Linked DNA regions of Homo sapiens: region 1 is linked to region 2. Evidence: fine-mapped expression QTL. Tissue or cell type: subcutaneous fat. Region 2 holds a variant in brackets; the other region holds the start of a gene. All regions are shown on one strand. Distances are from middle to middle.

Evidence for each region. PIP is the estimated chance that this variant, and not a neighbour inherited with it, causes the effect.
Region 1: it holds the start of WIPF3, and the variant in region 2 is fine-mapped to the expression of WIPF3 in subcutaneous fat (GTEx, PIP above 0.99).

What each region holds. Positions count from the first base shown.
Region 1 is chr7:29,799,943-29,810,937 of GRCh38, forward strand. WIPF3 (WAS/WASL interacting protein family member 3) reads left to right here and starts at 6,566. Exons shown (of 9, transcript NM_001080529.3): 1 at 6,566-6,736. RefSeq lists an enhancer at 6,302-7,211.
Region 2 is chr7:29,706,668-29,717,662 of GRCh38, forward strand. It overlaps the pseudogene DPY19L2P3. Among named protein-coding and RNA genes, the nearest start is that of MIR550A3HG, 27 kb to the left of the region's middle. The variant G/T (reference allele first, on the strand shown) is at 5,697.

The sequences.
Region 1 (10,995 bases), 93 kb after region 2:
TCAAATTTAATCTTTAAACCATGTTTAACTGTACAGTTCAGTGGCATTGCATACATTCACAACTTTGTGCAAATATAGCCATTACCTAGTTCCAGAACATTCTTATCCCCCTCAATAGAAATCCTGTAGCCATTAAGCAATCCCTCCCCACTTTTCTTTCCCCAACCCCTGGCAACCACCAATCTGCTTTCTGTCTCTATGAATTTCCCTATTCTGTATATTTCATATACATAGAATTACATAATATGTGGTCTTTTGTGTCTGTTTCTTTCAGTTAGCATATTTTCAAGGTTCATCCATGCTGTGGCATGTATCAGTACTTCATTTTTTTCATTGCTGAATAATATTCCATTGTATGGATATATCCCATTTTGTTTATCCAGTCACCTGTTGATGGAAATTTGGATTGTGTTCATCTTTTGGCTATTACGAGTAGTGTTACTATGAACATTCATATACAAGTTTTTATTTAAATTCCTGTGTTCAAATCTTTTGGGTACATGCCTAGGAGTGGAATTTCTGGGTCCTATGGAAGTTCTATGTTTAACTTTTTGAGGAACTGCCAAACTATTTTCCACAGCAGCTGTACCATTTTATATTCTCCCCAGTAATGTATGAGGATTCCAACTTCTCCACATTCTTGCCAACACTTTCAAAAATTATGGCCATCTTAGTGGGTGTGAAGTAGTATCTCAGTGTGGTTCTAAGGTTTTATCTTTGTTTTAAATGTTAATGATTCTTAAAACTATATTCCTAAGTATTTACCATGGAGAAATAAAAGCATTTATCTGCAAAAGGACTTGTACACAAATATTCAAAGCACCTTCATTTGTAATATCAAAAAAAACTAGAAACAAACTAAGTGTCCACCAAAAGGTAAATGGATTAAACAAATACTGGCATATCCATACAATGAAATACCAATCAGCAGTAAAAAGGAATAAACTACATATAACACATAACTCATGGGTGAATCACATAGGCTGAGTGAAAGAAGTCAGGACAAAATAGTTCTTCATGTATGATTCTAGTACACAAAGCTCCAGAAAAGACAAAACTAATCCACAGTAATAGCTCCGTGGTTGTGATACTGACAGGAGGCAGGGAGGTACTGGATAAAAGAGGGCAGTTCCCCAGCAAAGGCCCCACCCTCAAGCCTGGAAACCTGCGGCCCTAAATGGGAATAGACATTCCTGGTTTTGTGCCCAAATGTTGCCTTCTGGCCTGCCACATCATTCTATCCTGTACCCATATAAACCCCAAACCCCATGAGCAAAAGAGCAGAGGAGCAAAAGAGCGGCAGAGCAGAGCAGCAAAGGAGATAAGAGGAGGGTCTGACCATCGAGAGGAGTTCAGCTGGGGACGGTCGGAGAGGAGATCGGCTGCAGGACGGCCAAACTCCATGGTTGATCATCTTCACACTCCATTCCCTTTCCAGCTCCATCCATCCCACCAAGAGCCACTCCCATCCAGCAATAAAATCCCCCACATTTACTGTCCCTCAATTTGTCCATGTGACCTGATTCTTCCTGGATGCTGGGCAAAAACCTGGGTACCAAGAGGGTACTGAGCTGGTTAACACTTAGGCCATCTGCAGACAGCAGAGCTAAAAGAGCACTGTAATATGCCCACTGGGGCTTTAGGAGTCACAGGCATCCACCCCTAGATGCTACTATGGGCCCAGAGCCCAAAAGCACTTGCCCTGGCTCCTGCACCTGCCCATCTGCTCCCCATCCCATAAGAAGTTTGAGTGTGCAGTGGCCAAACAAATGAGCCACACCCCTGCCTCACATCCCACAAGGGGGTCAGGGAGCTCTCTCATTTCAGTTGCATGGGGCTGGGCATAGGGACTGACTGCAAAGGGGGATAAGATAACTTTCTTGGAGATGGAATAGTCTATACCTTGATAAAGGTGGTGGTTATATCAGAGTAAACATTTGTCAGCATTCATTAAACTGTTCACTTAAAAGGAGTGCGTTTTATTGTATGACATTATCCCTTAGTAAAGTTGATATAAACTTTTTTTGAGAAACGTTACAAACCCTCAGATATGTAGCTCCAGTCCCCAACCCTAATTTATTCATTTCTTTCAGAACTCAACAAATGTGTATTGAGTACCTACTATGTGCTAGCCTCTGTGCTGTGAGATAAGGATACAAAGGTGACAGAGATGGTTCCTGAGGTCATGAATACCACAGTCTAGCCTGGAGGACAAATGTTACATCATTAAACAGATATTGTCATCATACAACTGTAATAAATGCACAAAAGAAAGGTACATGAGGTTTTGAGAGCTTATAGAAGAGGGTGACCTAGCTGAGATTCAGATAAGTTGTGGCAAGGTTTAGTTGAGATCTGAAAGATGGAGAGGAGTTGACACTTGGGGTCTTCTTCACAAAGAGGGAAGAGCACATTCAAAAAGCCTGTGACACGAAGGAATATTGCTGTCAAAGGATCTGAAAGCAGGGCAACATGGCTGGAGGACAGAGATGGAGGGGAGGACTGAGAAAGGTGCGTTGGAGAGTGGGTCAGGCCAGGTCATGAGGGCCTTCAGACAAAGCTCGGGATCTTGGTTTTATCATCAGAGCAATGAGAATTCATTGAACTACAGATAATGTGAATTGATAAGATCAGCTTTGGGTTTCAAGACGCTCTCCCCGGCCACACTGGGGAGAATGCTTTAGAAGAGAGAAGTGGCATATGATTACAGAGGGAAAAGCTAACAGGTTCCTGGGAAAGTCCTGGAGAGAGGTGATGATGGGCTCTAGTCTCAGCTGGTGGTACAGATGGGCAAAATTGGACAGATTCAACAGGCTCAACCTCAAGGAGGGTTGATGGGGGAAAAGTAGCTTTACAAAATTTCTGGGTGGTCCAACTAGATGGCGGGGGGTGGGGGGCATTGGGGGATGGGCAACAGAGTGGGTCAGGTTTGGAAGGAAGACCTGAAGTGTGGTTCCAGACCTGTAGCATTTGAGGCTCCTAAACCACCAAGCTCTTTCAGACTTTCTTTTCCCTGAAATGCCCTCCCTTCCCCACTTTCTGACAGGAGAAACTCCATTCATTAATGGATGCCCAACTCAGGTCTTGCAGGCTCCCTCCTTTTCTACAGATAGTTCATCATTTCTTCTCCTGTATCAGCTCTCTCTACAGCACAAGCTCCTCTCCTACCCAAAATTGCAATATTCTCTTCACAAGCTGTGTTCTCTACTAAGCTGTTGGCTTCCTGGGGGGCAGGGCTGTGAATTCATCTTTGCACCCCTAGCACCAGTGCAGTATCACCAGAAAATAGCTGATCTGTACATATTTGAGAGATTGAAGTGAGCACATGTGTACAAAACACTTAATATTTCTGGAGTGCCTTTCTCCTGAAGAGCTCAAGAAGTTACAGAACAGATATAAATATATGTTTGCAAGTGGAAGGTGTGAAAGGTGAGCTATTGCAGACACTTGGTGAGTGAAGAGAAGAAAAGAGGAGGTTTTTGCTCTTTACCAGGTCATAGTATAAGTTAGGAATACATTTGGCTGCAAAATTAGAAAACGAATTCTCAGAGGCTGAAACAAACATGGGTTATTTTTCTCACATAGGATATAGTCCATCCAGAGGTGGACAGTTGCACACTTTGGCTCAAGTGCGCAGTGATACCACACTGACTCTATTTCCCAGTGTGTTGTCCCAATTATATTGACCTTTTGGCCTCACAGTCTTTGGCTCTTGATTGCAATCTGGTTGTAGCATTACTAGGCATTTCATTTGCATTCAAATCATAAAGAAAGTGGGAAATGGGCTGGGCGCGGTGGCTCACGCCTATAATCCCAACACTTTGGGAAGCCAAGGTGGGCAGATCACCTGAGGTCAGGAGTTCGAGACCAGCCTGGCCAACATGGTGAAACCCCGCCTCTACTAAAAATACAAAAATTACCTGGGCATGGTGGCAAGCGCCTGTAATCCCAGCTACTCAGGAGGCTGAGGCAGGAGAATCTCTTGAACCCCGTAGGCGGAGGTTGCAGCGGGCCAAGATGGTGCCATTGTACTCCAGCCTGGGCAGCAAGAGCAAAACTCTGTCTAAAAAAAAAAAAAGAAAAAAGAAAAGAGGGAAAAGGAAAGACAGAACCAGAAAAAATTTTTCAGAGGCTCCCCCACCAGACCCTTCTTTCAACTCATTGGCTAGAACTGGGTCAATGACTTCCTTAGCTGTAAGAAAGACTGGGAAATCAGGAAGGGGATTGTCATGGTCGTCTTGGATCAATCATAATCCTGGGTTCTGTCACTAAGGAAGAAGTGGAGAATAGACTGATAATTGGGAAGACAATTCACAGTGTCTGCCACTGAACAAGTACCATCTACTAGGAAGAGCTAGTGCCTTCTTGAAGTCAATTTGTCTTAGTGGAGCTAGGTGGAAATGAATCCCTCCCTAATGTCCGTAGGAACAAGATGCTAATGGTATTGTTACTTCACATGGATAGAAAACACTGATCACCTGAATGGAATGCCTCTTGAAGCTTTCAGCCCCAAATGTCCAAATTGATTCCTCACTCACCACCTCCCCATCCCTACAACCAGGCATTTTAAAAAACAAATTCTTTGATCCAATCCAGCATCTCTTGAGATAAATAACAGGCTTTCCATCCAACTGGCTCATGCTTGGGCTGCTCAGGAGATCTGATGGGAACTCTCTAGGCCCATGGCAATGTCTTCTCTAATAGTTTGACTTTTCTTCCTTTTTGAATTAGAATACTAGTGGTTATGTATTTAGTGAGCTTTAGCACTGGAGGTCCAGAGAAGGAGAGTGGCTGGGTCATGTTTTGGGGTTTTGGGTTTTGTTTTTGTTTTAGTAACAATCACCCATGTAAGAGGGCTTATGAATTTTATGTTGGAGAACTGTTCTTCAGGTTCCATACCTGTGGTCATCTATTATGATTCTAAAGGAGGAAAGGGCAAGAGGAACTCAGGACAAACAGGTGGAAAGCAAGTGCCTCATCAGCTTCCACTCACTACACATAGACCTTTCGTCACCTAAATCAAAAGAGAAAACCATGTTCTTGACGACACTGGAGTGAAAGACATCAAAAGTGTATTATTAATCCTTGCTTTCGACACATTGCCCAGCTACAAACATGAGTAATTAAGAGATCAGCTAAGGGCTGCTTGGGGAACATACTTTGACAGCAGCCACTACAGAACTTGAACCTGAATACAGGCTGCAATCCACGTGTGAGATCTTCCCTGCTGGCATTGGCTGCTCCCTCACCTGGGTCCCCAACATTTCACACAAGCCTCAGCACAGCGCTGAGCGCCAGGTTTCTCCTCTATTCCAGACCAGCAGCAACTTTAGAGTTAGACACCTTGCCCTGAGGCCCTGCAGAGTGTCTGGCTCATGGCAGATACTCAAACACCGAGGCTGAGTGAACAGTCCACGAGTACCCGCTTAGCTCCTCCACTAGCAGGAATGCCCAGGACATGGGCAATACAGAATCCTCACCCAATGATCTCAGCACCTACAGCAATGCATTCAGCCTCGGACACAAACTTTCTGCATCCTCCAAGGGCCTGAACAAGAAATGTGACAGAAGCAAGGTTTTCCGTTCTTCAAGCTTATTTCAGGTTTGTTTTTGTTTGTTTCTTTGTTTGGTTTGGTTTGGTTTTTTGAGACAGGGTCTCACTCTATCGCCCAGGCTGGAGTGCAGTGGTTCATTGCAACTTTTGCCTCCTGGGTTCAAGAGATCCTTCCACCTCAGCCTCCCGAGTAGCTAGGACTAGAGAGCGCCACCACACCCGGCTAACTTTTGTATTTTTTGGTAGAGACAGGGCTTCACCATGTTGGCCAGGCTAGTAACTCCTGACCTCAAGTGATCCGTCCACCTCGGCCTCCCAAAGTCCTTGGATTCCAGGCTTGAGCCACCGCGCCCGGCCCTATTTCAGTTTTCAGTCTGCTTTCTCCTCCCTTCGACTCTACCTGGGACATCAATCTACCTCCCCAGGCTACCCGGATAATTCTCTCATCACCTGGCTAATTCACACTCAGTCTTCAGTTTTTCTCGTCGACGTCAGCTCCTCAAGAAGCCCTCCCTGACCTACTCCCCACCCCAAGTTTAGATCAGGTGCTCCCTCTGGGAGCCGGCTCAGGAGGCCTCTGCCTCCTCTTGGTTGTGCTGTAATCGCCCATTGGTCGCTTTCCTTTTCTAGACTGTGAACTCCACGAGGGCAAGAGGTAATCTTGTTCTCTCGTCCCCATCGCTTATGACACCGCCTGGAGCTTAGTAAGGGCTCAACATTTTGGAATAAATTCAAGGAGTGGCGTGTCCCCAGAGTAGCTGTGCTGGGCCGTGTGCCGCCCGCGCAACAGCTCCTATTTGGGGAATTCCAGCCTTAGGCCTCAGTCTCTCCGCAGCTGAGACTTGGGACTCTGTACCCGGGAGGCGCGCCCGCCGACTTGGGACCCGCCTCCAGGGTCCCAGAGCGACCCCGCCCGCCGGGGCCGTGTCCCTGCCGCGGGGCGGCGGCGGCTCCCAGGCAGGAGCCTGCGAGCAGGTGGGGGCGGCGGCCCCGCCTCCGCGTCCCGGCAGCACCAGAGCCGGTGGCCGGGGAGCGAGCCGGGCGCACCGAGCGCAGCTCGGCGGTAGCGGCGCCGCTTGGAGCACGGGCGCTGCGGGACGGAGCCCGGAGCCGGAGGCGGCGGCGGCGGAGACGTCGGCCGGAGCTCGAGTCCAGTCCAGCCCCCGGCTCCGCCACCTGCAGGTAGCGGCTTCCCGCGCGGGTGCGGGTCGGTGCCCGAGGGTGGAAGGAACGGGCGGTGTGGCGGCCGCCGCCCTGGTCGGTCCCGGAGCAGAGTGGCCCGGCCCGGGACAGAGATCCTGAGGGCGTGGGAGGGCCGGGGAACCCCCGCCGGGCTGCAGCCCCGGGCCCAGGAGGTTGTCGACGTGCCGCGCGGCGCTCACGCCCCCCACCCGCACCCTGCCACGCCGCCCCGGCCGGGCCGGGCCGGGCCGGGCGGAAACAAACCGCGGGGTGGGGAGCGAGGTCACCACGGGGTTGCTTGGTGACTTCTCCGGACTGGACTCCCCGGTGAGCAGCCCCTGGCACCGAGGCCGCCTCGGCCTGGTCCTTCGCGACGCTCTCTCTTCTCCGCTTCGCCCCCGGAACAAAAGGCTGGGGTCTCGCTGGGGAGGGGGCTGTCGCGGGAAGGGCTGGGGCGGAGTAAAAGAGAGCTAGGAAATTGCAGAGCCGGAGGTGGCTTGGGGAATACAGAAGGAGCCCCCTAGTGAGGAAGCCAACTCCAGAGATGTGAAGTGACTTGTCCAAGGTCACACAGCTCATGGGGACAGAGCGCAGGTCTCTGGACACCCCTCCCGTGCTCATCTCCAAGCCCCTGGGGTCAGTAGTCAGACTGTGCTCCAGCAATGTACATTTGGCCACAAATGGGTTTAGGGTCCTTTGGAGGATTAGGTGGTGGGTAGGTAGGTGGCAGAGCAGATTTCCCCCAGCCCCTGACACGCACTCTCTGAAGGTGGCGGGGAGGGCGGGCACCCGGCCGCCCTGGACCTGGAGGAGCGCCGCCCGGGCCCCGTGGGCAGGCAGGCACCGGCTCTCAGGAACAGCGCCTTTGGAGGGTGGCGTGCCAGCCGCGTGGGTGTGCCCGTGGCGGGCGCCGGGGCGGCGTGGGGACCGTGTGTGCGCCTCCCTCTGGAAAGAAGTTTCTGCAGGGAAAGGCCAGGAGAGCGGTTCCATGCGCCCTGGGACAGTGTGGCCAATCCCTGACACTCAGGGCGCTTTGTAACTGGCTGTATTGGGGAGGAAAGTTACTCTGTAGCAGGAAGTTAGGCTGTCTCTTCGCCTCTGTGCCTGGGGTCCTTGGCTGTAAATGAGGGCCTTGTTTGGCATGACCAGTGTGATTTAGAAGGTTTGTGCCCCTCCGCCTCCTCCTTTCCAGAATCTTTTCTCACTTCACAGGGAGGACTGGGAGTGCACTTCTTGTGCCCAGCATTAATAGTTATCACTGGGACTCCTGCCTCCCTTCAATTTTTTTTAACTTTATCATTACGAAAGAGGTCAGAGGAGAGGTTGTTTTTGGGCCTTGCAAGGAGATAAACTCCAGGTCAATACCTGGACAGGACATGAGGGAGGCTTCTGGGATGCTAGAAATGCTTCTCACCTTGACCTAAGAATTACTGAAGTTATACCCTTGAGACTTGTGCACTTAACGTAAATTCTACCTCAGTGAAAAAGTAAATAAAAATGTGATGCTAAAGTCCACTCATTGTGGTAACACACAGATTGCTGCAGTTTTCCAGCTAATGCATTTCAAAGATACATTTAAAAACCACAAAAACCAAATCAGAAAAGAAGTGGCGAGGAGGGGCAAAAGAAAGTTAAGAAGTAACTGGAAATGAAACATACACTGCAGATGCCTTTATGTGCATCACCTCCTGTGATTCGCAGCAATTCTTTAACAGAGATATTGTTATTGTGCCTTTTTTACAGATGAGAAAATAAAAGGTCACAGAGGTTAAATTACTTACTCAGGGTAACAGCCTGGGCACACAGACTTCAAATTCTAGACAGGCAACCTTCAACAGGCAATTTGTGGCCACCTGAATCGGGGCAGAGCGGTCAGGGTGACAGACACTTGTAGGCTGGCTTCCTGCCATTGCCCCCTTTTTGTTCCTTTAGGAGTCTCTGTTTTCACGTAATTGTGAGTGTGACATTGTGTCACAGATTGCAGTTACCCAGCAGCAGAAGGAATGGAGGAAGTGTGTGTGTGTGTGTGTGTGTGTGTGTGTGTGTCTAAGAACATACAGTTATAAGAACAGGGGAAAGCCAGCTGGTCTAGCCTGGCAACGCTCTTTTTAGGAGACTTATTGTTCAGAAACCATATAGTACAGGTTGCGAGTTTGCAGTCACTCCAACACATACACAAAGAATAAAGAATATAACCTAGGAAAGATCCGAGAAAACAAAATGTGATTAACAGTAGAGGGAAACATAGAATTTTCACCAGGATGGCAGTCAACTTTTTTACATTCTAGAATTTATAAATATGTTTATTAATGTTGAAGTTTTTAAAAAAGAAACCTACACAAATAACTCAGCAAAAGGAAGGAAATGTGTTTTCTAGCAAATGTGTTATAAATATTTAATATATATGAACTTTGGTGCAGAAATATTTGAAACATTAGGGTACAGTAGCCTTAAATCTACGGAGAAATCCTGAGAACTTTGTCCTGATGTGTGGTCTTCTAGTGATTTTATTTTTCTGCCTAATATTCCGAACTTAAAGAGGTAGAAACGTCTTTGTTTTACCACCAGTTTCAAGTTGCAGAGTTGAATGTTTGTCTTAGGAAGTTTTGGTGTAAAGAACGTGGGTTAAGGGGAGCAATTTAGAAATAGCTCTGGGTGAGTCCCCTCAGCCCAGTGCCATCGAGCATGGTTCTGCATCACAAAGTTATCTTTAGGCAAGTTTGCCTTGTCACAGTGGTGCTTCTGCCATCTGGCTGCTGGAATATTTAGAAAAGAATCGTAATGTTTGACTGACTTTGCCGACAGCATGACAAAACAAACTTCGAGGGGAACTATTAAATATGAGTTAGGGTTGGTGAGAAAGTGATTAATTGCTTTTTATTTAGCCACTGTACAAAACCGAAGAGGCATGCCTTTCCCCAGCCGATGCTGGGCAGGGGCAGCACACGTGTTTTCTCACTGGCTTCAGCCAGTAGGGCACTTGAAACTCCCCTTTTGCAATTCTAGCTGCGTCTTTCCTTAGACCTGTTCAAGAGGGAACCCGACCATTATGCAGCAGGGGAATTGTGTAGTGAACTGCGGTGTTCAAGTGCCAAGGAGGTAAACTAAAGCAGAGTAAACGTGACAAAAATGCCCAGCGGGCATTATGTGGGCCAGGCACTGTGGAGGAAGATTTTCAAGTGCATCTTGAAGGAATGTTCATCCTATGTGGGTGGTGTTTTCCAGCTAACACCGCATCTAGGATGGTGGCATCCAGGAGAGAGTGCCAGGCCTGCACATGGACTGTGAGAGTCAGCTCTTGGTTAGCTAGGAGGAGGCAGTAGCCAGTCTCAGTGCTTGAGTTTCTGAGGACGTGTGTCTGTGTGAGTGCACATGTGTGTCTGAGCAAGGTGCCCAGGTTGCCATCCACTGTTCCTTAAGAGCTAATGACTAGCTAGCCCTGCCCGGGGCTAGGCTAAGAGCTTTATATGTAGGACATCACTACAGCAGCCCTATAGGGAGCTGATTCTTCATACTCCTTTATCAAAGGGGAGACAGAAGCCGAAGGCTGACTTACTCTCAGAATGATCATGTTGCACCCTGCTGTGGTCTTTTATCAACCCACTCATAACCCCAAGGTGTCCCCAACCTACCTGACTCTCTCTTATTGCACCTGAGCTCCTGGAAGGCAGGAACTGTGTTCATCTCCATTCCCAGCATAGCACCTGCCCCATGCCTGGCAAGTGAGGGGTACTCCCTAAAGGTTGTTGAATGAATTAAAGGACTGTGTAAGTGGAGGAATCAGTAATTGTGTGAGTGAATGAATGAATGAATGAATGAATGAATGAATATCTGGAAGTATGTTCCAAGATCAAAAGACAATTATTTGTTGTGTTTTATCTGTTGTTTTAACTTTCACTGTCTCATTCCCTTTTGTTAATATGGCTCCATCAGGCATAACTGTATGGATGAGATTTCCAATAGTTATCTCCTTTAGGGCTCAGCCTATAAAATCAAAAAGCCTCTGCTTCTTTAAGAAATTATTTATTCTTTTGTATAACTTATGTAAGTCAGAATCCCTGGACTATTTTGCATGAATCTTACATGCATCATTTATTTGCTGTATGATCTTGGACAAATTACTTAACCTCTCTGTGTTTTGGTTTTCTCATCTAGAAAATGAGGATAATAATAGTATTTATCTCATGTTTAAGGCTAATAAGATAGATTTATTCTGTTTTTTTGTTTTTTGATAGGGTCTTGCTCTGTTGCCCAAGCTG
Region 2 (10,995 bases):
ATAGCTTTCTTCATGTTTCTTGTATTTAGGATTCATTGAAATGAATCCTAGATCATTAGATCTTTAGGTTTACAATTTTTATCAAATTTGGAAAAATTTTGGCTATTATTTCTTCAAATTTTTTCTGCCTCCCCCCTCACTTTCATTTAGGGACTCTCATTAAATGCATATTGGGCTGTTTGAAAATGTTCAGTGGTTCATGGAGCCTATGTTTATTTTTGTTCTTTATTTAATTTTGGATAGTTACTATTGCTGTGTCTTCAGGAGTTCACTGGTTGTTTTTCTGCAGTATCTAACCTGTTGTTAATCACATCCAGTGTATTTCTCATTTAAGTCATTGTAGTTTTCATATCTAAAAGTTCATTTTGTATCTTTGAAGTATTTTTTGTCTCTAGTTAACTTGTTCTCTCTCTGTTACCACTTCTTCACCATGTGTAATACAGTTACAGTAACTGCCCCAGTGCCTCCCCCTGCTAATTCTGTCATCTGTGTCAGTTTCAATTAATTGTTTCTTCTCCTCATATAGAGGTTGTGTTTTCTTGAGTGTTTGCACGCTTGGCAATGTTTACTTGGATGCCAGGCTTTGTGAATTTTACCTTCTTAGCTGCTGGATATTTTCTTATTCCTATAGATACTCTTGAGCTTTTTTCTGTGATGCAGTTAAGTTGCTTGAACATAGGCTGATCTTTTCGGGTCTTGCTTTTAAGATCTGTTAGCTGGAATTAAAGTAGTGGTTAGTTTGTGGCTAATATTGCTGCACTCTGAAACAAACTCTTCTGTGTAGACTACCTGGTGTGCCCTTTGGCTGCACTATTTTATATTCCCACCAACAGTACATAAGCATTCCAATTTTTCTACATTTTTGCCAAGACTTGTTACTTCTGGTTTAGTTTTGGTTTGGTTTGTTTTATAATGGCCATCCTAACAGGTTTGAGGTGGTATCTCATTGTGGTTTTGATTTACATTTCCCTGATGATAAGTGATGTTGAACATCATTTTAAATACCTGTTGGACATTTGTATTTATTCTTTGGGGAAATGTTTATTCAAGTCCTTTGCTCATTTTTAATAGAAATATTTGTTTTGTTTTGCTATATTCATCAGAGATACTGGCCTGTAGTTTTCTTGTAGTATCTTTTTCTGGATTTGGTATCAGAGTAATGCTGGCCTCATAAAATGTGTATAGAAGTGTTCTCTTCAGTTTTTTGGAAGAGCTTGAGAAGGATTGGTGTGAATTCTTATTTAAATGTTTCATAGAATTCTCCAGTGAAGCCATCTGGTTTGAGGTTTTCTTTTGTTGAGAAAATTTTTATTACTGATTTATTAGTTATAGGTCTGTTGAGTTTTTTTGTGTTTTCATAATTTACTCTTGGTTGGTTGTACGTTTCTAGAAATTTATTTCTTATAAATTATCTAATTTGTTGGCATATAATTCTTCATAGCTGTCTCTATAATCTATTTGGCTTGGTATTTTAGGTTTTTAGGGTGAGAAAGTAAATGTGGTTTCTGTTATACAAACTTGGACAGAAGCTGAAGTTTCATTCTGATTGATTTTAGTTACTTTGGGTGAAACATTACCATGTTTCAATGAGGAAGAAATATATATATATATATATATATATATATATATATATATATATATATATATATATATATATATATAAATTATACTCAGAAAATATTCCCAAGAAATATATATATATATAAAATTATACTCAGAAAATATTCCCCACTATTCCTTCCAGCCCATTCTCTCCACCTTTCTTTTCACCCTGTTACTGCCTATTCCCTGTAGGTAAGAAATCTTACTAGTTTTCTGGTTGACCTCATTTAGTTGGGCTTTTTTGAGTACTAATAACTGTTACATGTATATTTTTTAAATCTCCTCTTCTTGTATTAAAGATAGTCTTTTGCACTTTTTTTTTCATTTAACAACCTATTCTGGATATCAGTTCGTAGAGATTTTCCTCATTCTTTCTGGTAGTTTCCTAGTGTTCTGCTTTGGATTTACTGTAATTTAGTCACTCTCCTATATCTGGGCATTTAGGTTGTTTCCTAAATTTTGCATTTACAAACAATGTTGCAATGAATAATCTGATACATTTATATTTTCCTATTGGAAGTTTAGTAATCCTGGCTCACTTTGGGAATTTCTACACCAACTAAATGATACAAAATTCGAATCCAAGTCTAAATAATATACAAGTCCAAGAATTCAGTTTCTCATGTGAGCACTATTTTCACCCCAAACTTGGGAATAAAAAAATAACCTATCAACTTGTAGAGATGGTAGGTGAAGTATTCTTAGTCACTGTGTGTCTTAAGTCAGTTTGGGCTGTTATAACAAAAGTACCACAGACAGGATGGCTTAAACAACAGGAATTTATTTCTCACAGTTCTGGAGGCTGAGCTGTTCAAAATCAAGGTCCCAGCTGATTTGGTTCTTGGTGAAAGCCCTTTTTGTGGTTTGCAGACAGAAGCCTTTTTACTGTGTCCTCACATGGTAGAGAGAGACCTCAACTCTCTAGTCTCTTGTAATATGGACACACTAATCCCATTCATGAGGGTTTCACCCTCATGACTCAATTACTTCCCAGAGGCCCACCCTCCAAACACCATCAGACTGGGGATTAAAGATTCAGTCTATGAATTTGAGGTGGACACAAATACTCAAGTCCATAGCACTGCAGGTATAGTTTTTGAGGACCCTAGCTTTATGTATTAGTCTCAATTCCAACTTCTTACCTTGCATAGACCCAAGGCCTCTTCTGCTGCCCTCCCTTTACAATACAAGCCTATAGTTGTGACCTTATTCTACAGGCACTTATAAAGACTGCCAGGGGTGGTGGCTCTCTGCTAATGAATATTGTATTTTTAAAAATTCATCTTTTTTCTAGCATCAGAAGTTCCTTCTCTTTCACATGAGTATACATTTTTTAAACATGTTTAAATATTTTATTTGGCAGTTTGGAGAGGAAGGATTTACATGTTAGTTTAGTTCACTAATGTTGCTGGATAACTCACATACAGACTTGCATGGATGCTCTCATCTGCTCACATACCATTTACCTTTGTAGAGGAATTATCCTGCAGAAAATGGCCAGGTTGTCTAAGTGAGGAAATAACTTGATTCAAGAGGCAGCTTTTTGACACATAAACCATTTAACTCTTACCTCAAGGAAATTTGCCATGTCCAGAATTTGAAAAATAAACAGTTAAGGAGGAAAATGGCTGGTGATAGCTGAGATGGAACAGGGTGACTATGTAATTTTTGGAATGTACCATTTATATAAAATATAAATGTTAATTGAATTGAATTGTTTCATTTTCCCTTATGTGCATTTTAGGCAATAATTCTAAAGGAAATAAAATTTAAAAACTGGGAGTATCTGAACTCAACTTTTGGGTAAGATTCAGTGTTTTTAATGCAGTTTATTTAAATTCTACTTTTTATTTCTACAAACTAAACACAGTTAATATGCTTTAAAATGCTAATGACATATTTAATAAATAGCTACTGTCTTAAAAATAGCTACTATCTAAGGTAGATAGATATGTAAGGAAATAGTCCTTAGCAAAGACTAGAAATCATTTTCAAGAAGTTAGCTCACGTATTTCACAACTAACTTTCAGACCACTTTTCCTCTATGTTTCATTCTGCTATATCCATACAGTCTTGCTTTTTAAAATTTGTATGTCTTGAGTTTCTCTCTTTAGCTTCAGTTAAACTTTCCTTCAACATAACTCAGGTTTGTAGTTTCTTTCCACTTTTCTCCTTTTCTTTCCTCTGCATCTATCCATCGTCTATCTCTCTTTCCTTCTGCTTCCAACTTTAGACTCTATTACTTTTGTCCTTTTAACATTTTCCTTGCAGTCTCCCAGCCCCTTCTAATTTGAACTCAGCCACTACCTAATCTTTGTTTGGCTTCTTCCCAAATATGCAGATGGATGGCCCGTATTACCTCCATGGTTTCCTAGTAATATAAGTTATTAGGCAGGTAGTGCAACTCTTAAATTCTCTTAATATGAGACAGATGATATTCTTTTTCTCTGGTCTGTGATGTACTTCTATTAAAAAATAAACCCTGGGCCACACACAGTGGTTCACGCCTGTAATCACAGCACTTTGGGAGGCCAACATGGACAGAGGGCTTCAGCCCAGGAGTTTGAGACCAGCCTGGGCAACATGGCAAAACCCTGTCTCTACAAAAAATAGAAAAACTAGTTGGGCATGGTGGCATGAGCCTGTGATCCCAACTACTCAGGAGGCTGAGGTGGGAGGATCGCTTGAGCCCAGGAAGGTTACAGTGAGCCATGATCACCCCGCTGCACTCCACCCTAGGTGACAGAAGAAATGAACTGTATGTTTTCATGTTATATATTGAGAGGATAAGTCTGGAAATGTTACAAGTTGAGGAGGTAGGTTCCTACCCACAATACAAGAGAACAAAATGGAAGGAGTTGCTATTTTCTCCTTGTTGGAGGCATTCTCCCATCCTTTAGGTGGTGAAAATATAGAAAGATATGTCCACTAAGTTGTTGAATGAATGACATGATGCTTTTTTTGTCTTTTTGTTATTCTTTATTGGTTCTACCAATTTGACTCTTTACCCAGGCCACCTGTCCTTAGGCATGCAGACTTTGTAGAAATTCACATGTCGACATTACACTTGTAATATATAATTCTTTCACTTCAGAAAAATTGAGCAATTTAATAATTCAACTCAAAAGAAGTTCAGAATTTCATTTGCAAACTATTGAAAAATGACAGTAAACAGAAGGTGTCCATAAACATCAAAAAAATTCTGCCAAGGCTGCACTCAAAGGAAAATTTACTGTCTTCATTTTCAACAATATTTTCAGTAGTAGACTGGAAAGAACATGAATTGAGTAAGTTTTAAATTCAAGAATATCAAAGAAACAAAAAATCTAAGGAGAGAAAAGTTGAGATTTAACCAAATGTTCAGCTTACATGTTTTTTAAGCCCCCTAGGTATTATTTTCTGTTTTTAGCTCTGTATATCTTTGGCAAAGGTAAGTATTTATTACACACAACCTGAACAAGGTATTTTTAGAGCTAAGTGATTCATTTTAGAGTTTAACATCAATAGAAGCAAATTCACTGTTTAATGGGAGACTCCAGTTTTTGGTGGCAAGATAATTATCGAATTGAGCGCGTATGAAATTTACAAAGGGGAACTTTGTGTGTGCCATGAGGCATAAGAATCATTACAAGAAGGGAGATGGAACCTCCAAGATAATCTAAAGCTCAGTACTAAGGCCAGATAAGGATAGTTTGAGAAAGGATATTCTTACTTGTGAGCATAGATTCAAAATTTCACCTAGATTAAAAACATTCCTTACACACAAAATATAAAAGATTAGTAACTCAAGAACAGCCATATATGTGATACAGATAATCCACTTGTGATACATCTGGCTTATTCTAGGAATCCAAAGACATTTCTGGAAAATCAAAAAATGTAAGTTATCACACTAACAGATTAAAAGAGAAAAAATCTTATGATCATCCCATTAGATGCAGAAAATAAAATTGATAAAATTGAACACCCATTTGTAATGAAAACATGTAACACAGTAGAAATAACAGTTTTCTCAACCCTGTAAAATTATTCAGCAGTCATTAGTCTTACCTATAATAAAGTATTTAGAGTGTTCTGTTTAAAATCAAGATAAA[G/T]ATAAATGTGCTTTTTCACGTTTTATTAAAGTCCAAACTAGCCTAGTAATTCAAGAAAAGTAAATAATAGGAAAAGGAAAGAAACAGAAGGAAAATTTATTATAGTATCAGTATTTACCTAGAAAGAATAAAATAATTGACAAATTATTAGGAATTAGAAGAATTCAATACCATGGCTAGATATAAGTTTAATATTCAAAAATCAATTGCATTTCTATTCTTTGGCAACAAACAGAAAACATTTTTTAAAAATATGCCTTATGTATTAGGAAGAAAAATGCATAGAATCTGAATGAATCTAACAAAATACATATAGTATTTGTATGAAAATTTATTTTAATAATTCTAAGACAAATAGAAAAATAAAACACATTTATGTGTATGAAGTTTCATGTAATGCAGTTCTCCCCAGCTGATGTTCAGATTCAAAGCAATTTCAGCAAGATTGTCTTGCAGGTCACTTTTCACTAAATGATGCTGGAATAGTCTATCTATATGAGAAAAACCATATGTTATACACAAATATCAGTTCCAGGCCTAGCCGTTTTGAATGTTCCTAAGCTGGATGTCTCTTTGACATGTCTTTATAAATTTATAATGCTCCAGGCTTTTCTTGATTTTCCTCGTGCTAGCCTTGGAATCAGCCATTTTTTCCAAGGAGCCCTGGTTCCTTTTAGAGGAGAATGGTATTTGGAAACCAAGACCTGAGTGGTATGTGCACTCATTACTACCAGTGTGTCCTTGTTTCTAGGCCCTTTCACTGCACGTATGTGCACACGTGTGTGTGTGTATGAAATCATGATTTCATAACTGTAGCTCCAATCCCAGCCCAATGCTATAGAAAGGCAGACTAGTTAGGTACCTCAGAACTCACAGAAAACCACAGGCTGCCATCTCCTGAAACTCCATCCAGTGGCAGAAGACACTCAGAAAGAGGGTCCGGGGAAATACTCTCCATGCTGTGGGTCTGGTATCTACTATTTCCTCCAGGGAGGCTGCCCATGCAGGTAGCAGCAGCGGGGATCTAACAGGTGCCCTGCCAGGACTAGGCAGCCCAGGAAAGAGCCCTCTGCTCTCTGCCGACCTCCTACCCCACAATCCTGGTGTCTCTCACCCTCCACCTCATGGCAACAGGACATGGGAAGTACATTCTTCCTGCATCGGCAGCATGATTTGGGGCAGAGATGGACCACAAGGGCACCAGATGAATCAAGCTGACCAGAATAGCACTAGCACTGCAAAGACTCTGAAAACTAAACTGTCATTGTAACTATAGCACACAGAAGTAGGCCAGGACTTGCATGATAAACCTAAAAACAAAGTGACTGTCTGCTGAAATAGAAATTTAAAATAGGATCCACAGTCTCTAACATAATATAAAAAATGTACTGGACACAATAGAAAAACCACTCATCATAGCAAGAATGGAGAAAATAACAACTTGAATGAGAAAAGACAATCAACAGATGTCAACACTGAGATGAATAGGATGTGGGGATTATTTGACAAGGGTTTTAAAGCAGTCATCATAAAAACACTTCAATGAGCAGTTTTAAATACTCTGGAAGCAAATGAAAAGGCTATAAAATGTCACCAAAGAATTGTCTTTTTTTTTTTAAAGAACAACTTGGTGATTACAGAACTGAAAAATACAATAACTGAAATTAAAATTCAGTAAATGGACTTGGTAGTGGAGTGAATATTACCGAGGAAGCAGTCAGTGCTCTTGAAGATAGAACAATAGAAATTTCCCAATCTAAATTGAGAGAAAATCATAGGAAAAAGGACAGAGCCTCCGGGACCTATGGTGTAGTATCAAAAGATCTAATATTTGTATCATCAAAATTTCAGAAGGAGTGGAAAAAGAGAGTGGGGCTGAATAGTATTTTAAGAAGTAATTGCTAAAAACATCCTAAATTTGGTGAAAGACACACCTGCAGAGTGAAGACCCTGAGCCATTCCCAAGTAAGACAAACCCAGAGAAATCCATGCCAAGATACATTATGAGTTAACTTTTAAAACTAAAAGAAAAAATCTTGAAAGCAGGTATGGAGAAATGACACATCACCTACAGGGCAAAACTGACTTAAATTGTAGCAGACTTCTCATGTGAAAGTAAGGAAGCCAGAAGGTTGTGGCAGAACATTTGTCAAGATGAATTACATATCCAGTGGATGTTTCCTTTAGGAATGAAGGGGAAATAGACATTCTCCAATCAAGGAAAATTAAGATAGTTTGTGGCTAGCAGAGAACCTTAAAGAATGGTTAACTGAAGTTCTTTTGTCAGGTTTGTTGAAGACCAGATGGTTGTAGATATGTGGTTTTATTTCTGAATTCTCTATTCTGTTCCATTGGTCTATGTGCCTGTTTTTGTACCAGGAGCATGCTGTTTTGGTTATTGTAGCCTTGTAATATGGTTTGAAGTCAGGTAGCCTGAGGCCTCCAGCTTTGTTCTTTTTGCTCAGGATTGTCTTGGCTATATGAGCTCTTTTTTGATAGTGTGGAATCAACCCAAATGCCCATGAATGATAGACTGGATAAAGAAAATGTGGTACATATACACCATGGAATATTATGCAGTCATAAAAGAAATGAGATCATGTCCTTGGCAGGGACATGGATGGAGCTGGAAGCCATTATCCTCAGCAAACTAATGCAGGAACAGAAAACCAAACACTACATGCTCTCACTTATAAGTGGGAGCTGAACAGTGAGAACAGATGGACACAGGGAGGGGAACAACACACAATGGGGCTTGTCAGGGGAGGGTGTGGGGAGGGAGAGCATCAGGAAAAATAGCTAATGCATGCTGGGCTTAATACCTAGGTAATGGGTTGATAGGTGCAGGAAACCACCATGACACACGTTTACCTATGTAACAAACATGCACATCCTGCACATGTACGCCTGAACTTAAAATTTAAAAACTTCTGAAAACAAAAAGGAAATGAAAGAAAGAATCCTAGAATATAGGGAAGAAATATAAAACAGCAAAACAGATACACAGAGGGGTTAATATAGTAGACTATTCTTCTCATGAGTATTTCCCTTTGTGTACTTTTTTCACTTTATTTCGTTATTCTTTATTTAGATTTTTAAGTCAAGGATTTAATTCATTTATTTTCACTCTTTCATTTTTATTGATAAAGCTTTTGAGGCCATGAATTTGCTTCTTATGCTTGCTTTAAATGTCTTCCTTAGTTTCCATATGGAAATGGTATTTGCCTGCCATGCTTGCTGCCATCATTCTATTTTTCACCTTTCTGAATCTGTTTTTATTTGTCTTCCCTGTGTAGCATAAGTTGAGTCTGTCTTTGCTTTGTGAGATAATGTGAAAACCTTTGTTGTAAGTTTTATGTGTATTTGACTATATTTGCTTTGTTCCTGTATATGATTCTCTTTAAAACTTTTTGTATTTAAGAAGGTTACTATTATTTCCTCAATTATTGCATATTTGAAACCTTTTTTATAACATCTATACTTGAATGACAGATTGGCTAGATATAAAATCCTTGGTTCTCACTTTTTAAAGTTTCTTAAAAATGCGTCTACACCACTGCTTTGGTTTGTATGTTTCTTTTAACAAGTCTGATGCTAGCCAAATTCTTCTGTCCCTTATAAATTATGTGACTTTTGTGCCTGGAGGCTCTGAGAAATTTTTCTTCATTTTTCATAGTTCTACTGAAAGATGTCTTGAGTTAGTTTACCATACCAGATTAATTTTTTTCCAGTACCCCCTGGATCCTTTCCAAATCCCTATTCAGGTCTTCTTTTATTTCTGGAAAGTTTTCTTGGATTATAATTTAAACACTAGTTTTGATTCATTGCTGTGGTGTTTTTTTTTTTCAGGCACTCCAGTTATAATTATGTGCCTTTCTTCCATTTCTACCACTTTCTCTGATACTTCTCACTTCTTTCTCTGGTAACATTTTCATTCTTCATCATTGTTTTAGTGCCTTTACTTCAATTCCTTCATTAACTTATTTGAATTTCTTTTCTTTTAATCATCTTGTGATTTCGTTTTTATTTTTGATAATATTCTCCTTTTCTTTCATTCCCTTTCTGTGTCTAATAAACTCTTTATTTCTTTCTGATTTTTTCCCCATTTCTGTTCTTGGTTTTTGAATTTCTTGTTTAAATTGCTTTTTTAATATTTCTGAATGCTCGTTTGAGGATATTTAATTCAACTTTTAATTCTGCATAATTTTCTTTTGCTTTGTGAGATTTTATCGTTCAGTGGTGTGGATTTCATTAGCTGAAATATTTGACTTTCATGTTTGTTATCTTCTTAAAGAAGCTTTGGATATTTATATAGGCATTTTTTCATCTATTAATTATTTTGTGTTTTCTAGTCCAAGTGCAAACCTCTTCTGAAAATGTAGCATAGTGTGATTTTTTTTCAATGAATAACTTTTTTCTTTTTTTGTGCTTGATGGCAGTAGTGATGGATAGTCTTTTGGTTTGGGTTCTCATTTTTCCTGCTGGATACTTTTTCCTTCTTGCACTCCCCTTTTTATCCTCCTTTCTTTCCAGAAATGATGCCTTTCTAACATCAGTGTTTTTGTCTCTACTCACTGTTAGGCCCTGCTCTGTACTCCCATTTACCAATCTCCCAGGGCTCTTTTTACACATATGATAGACTTGTCTCTTTCTTGGGTTATTTTAGTTCCAATTTTGACCCCTGTCTTTCCTTTTCTTCTTTATCCTTTTATGGGTCTCCCCTCATTCTATGCAAAGGCATAGGTCAGGGACTTGAGGTATAACTCTATAGATTCGTTGCTTCCTTTTCGATTCATAGGTAATTTGAAGTTTGTGCTGTTACCTTTTATCCATATATGTGATTGTATTGTTCTACTTGTTGGTTGATATATGCAGAGATTTGAATTTAGGTTGCTTAACTTTCCCCAGGCTAACCAGAAGTACACAATTGTTCCCTTTTTAATCAAGGCTAGTCAAAAAATAAACAACAACAACAACAACAAAACAGAAGCCTCATTGCCAGTTCTAGTTCATATTCCTCTTTCTTAAAGGAAACCTTAAATTTTCACATTTCAAACTGTTATTTCTTGAAGATGGGCGCCTATATTTCCACAGGAGTGGTAGAAGAACTTTTAAGGTAGTGTTTTGAAAAATGGATTTTCAGCTGAGAAATAATATTTGGAAACAAACACATAAACACTCCCTTTTCTTAACAGAAATCAAAAGGAAGTAACCTTTTAAAACTTCCTTCAGATTAGGATATGTATGAGCAGCCACTTTTCTGACGCACACAGGGTTTTCTCTTTGTTCAAATCCCCCC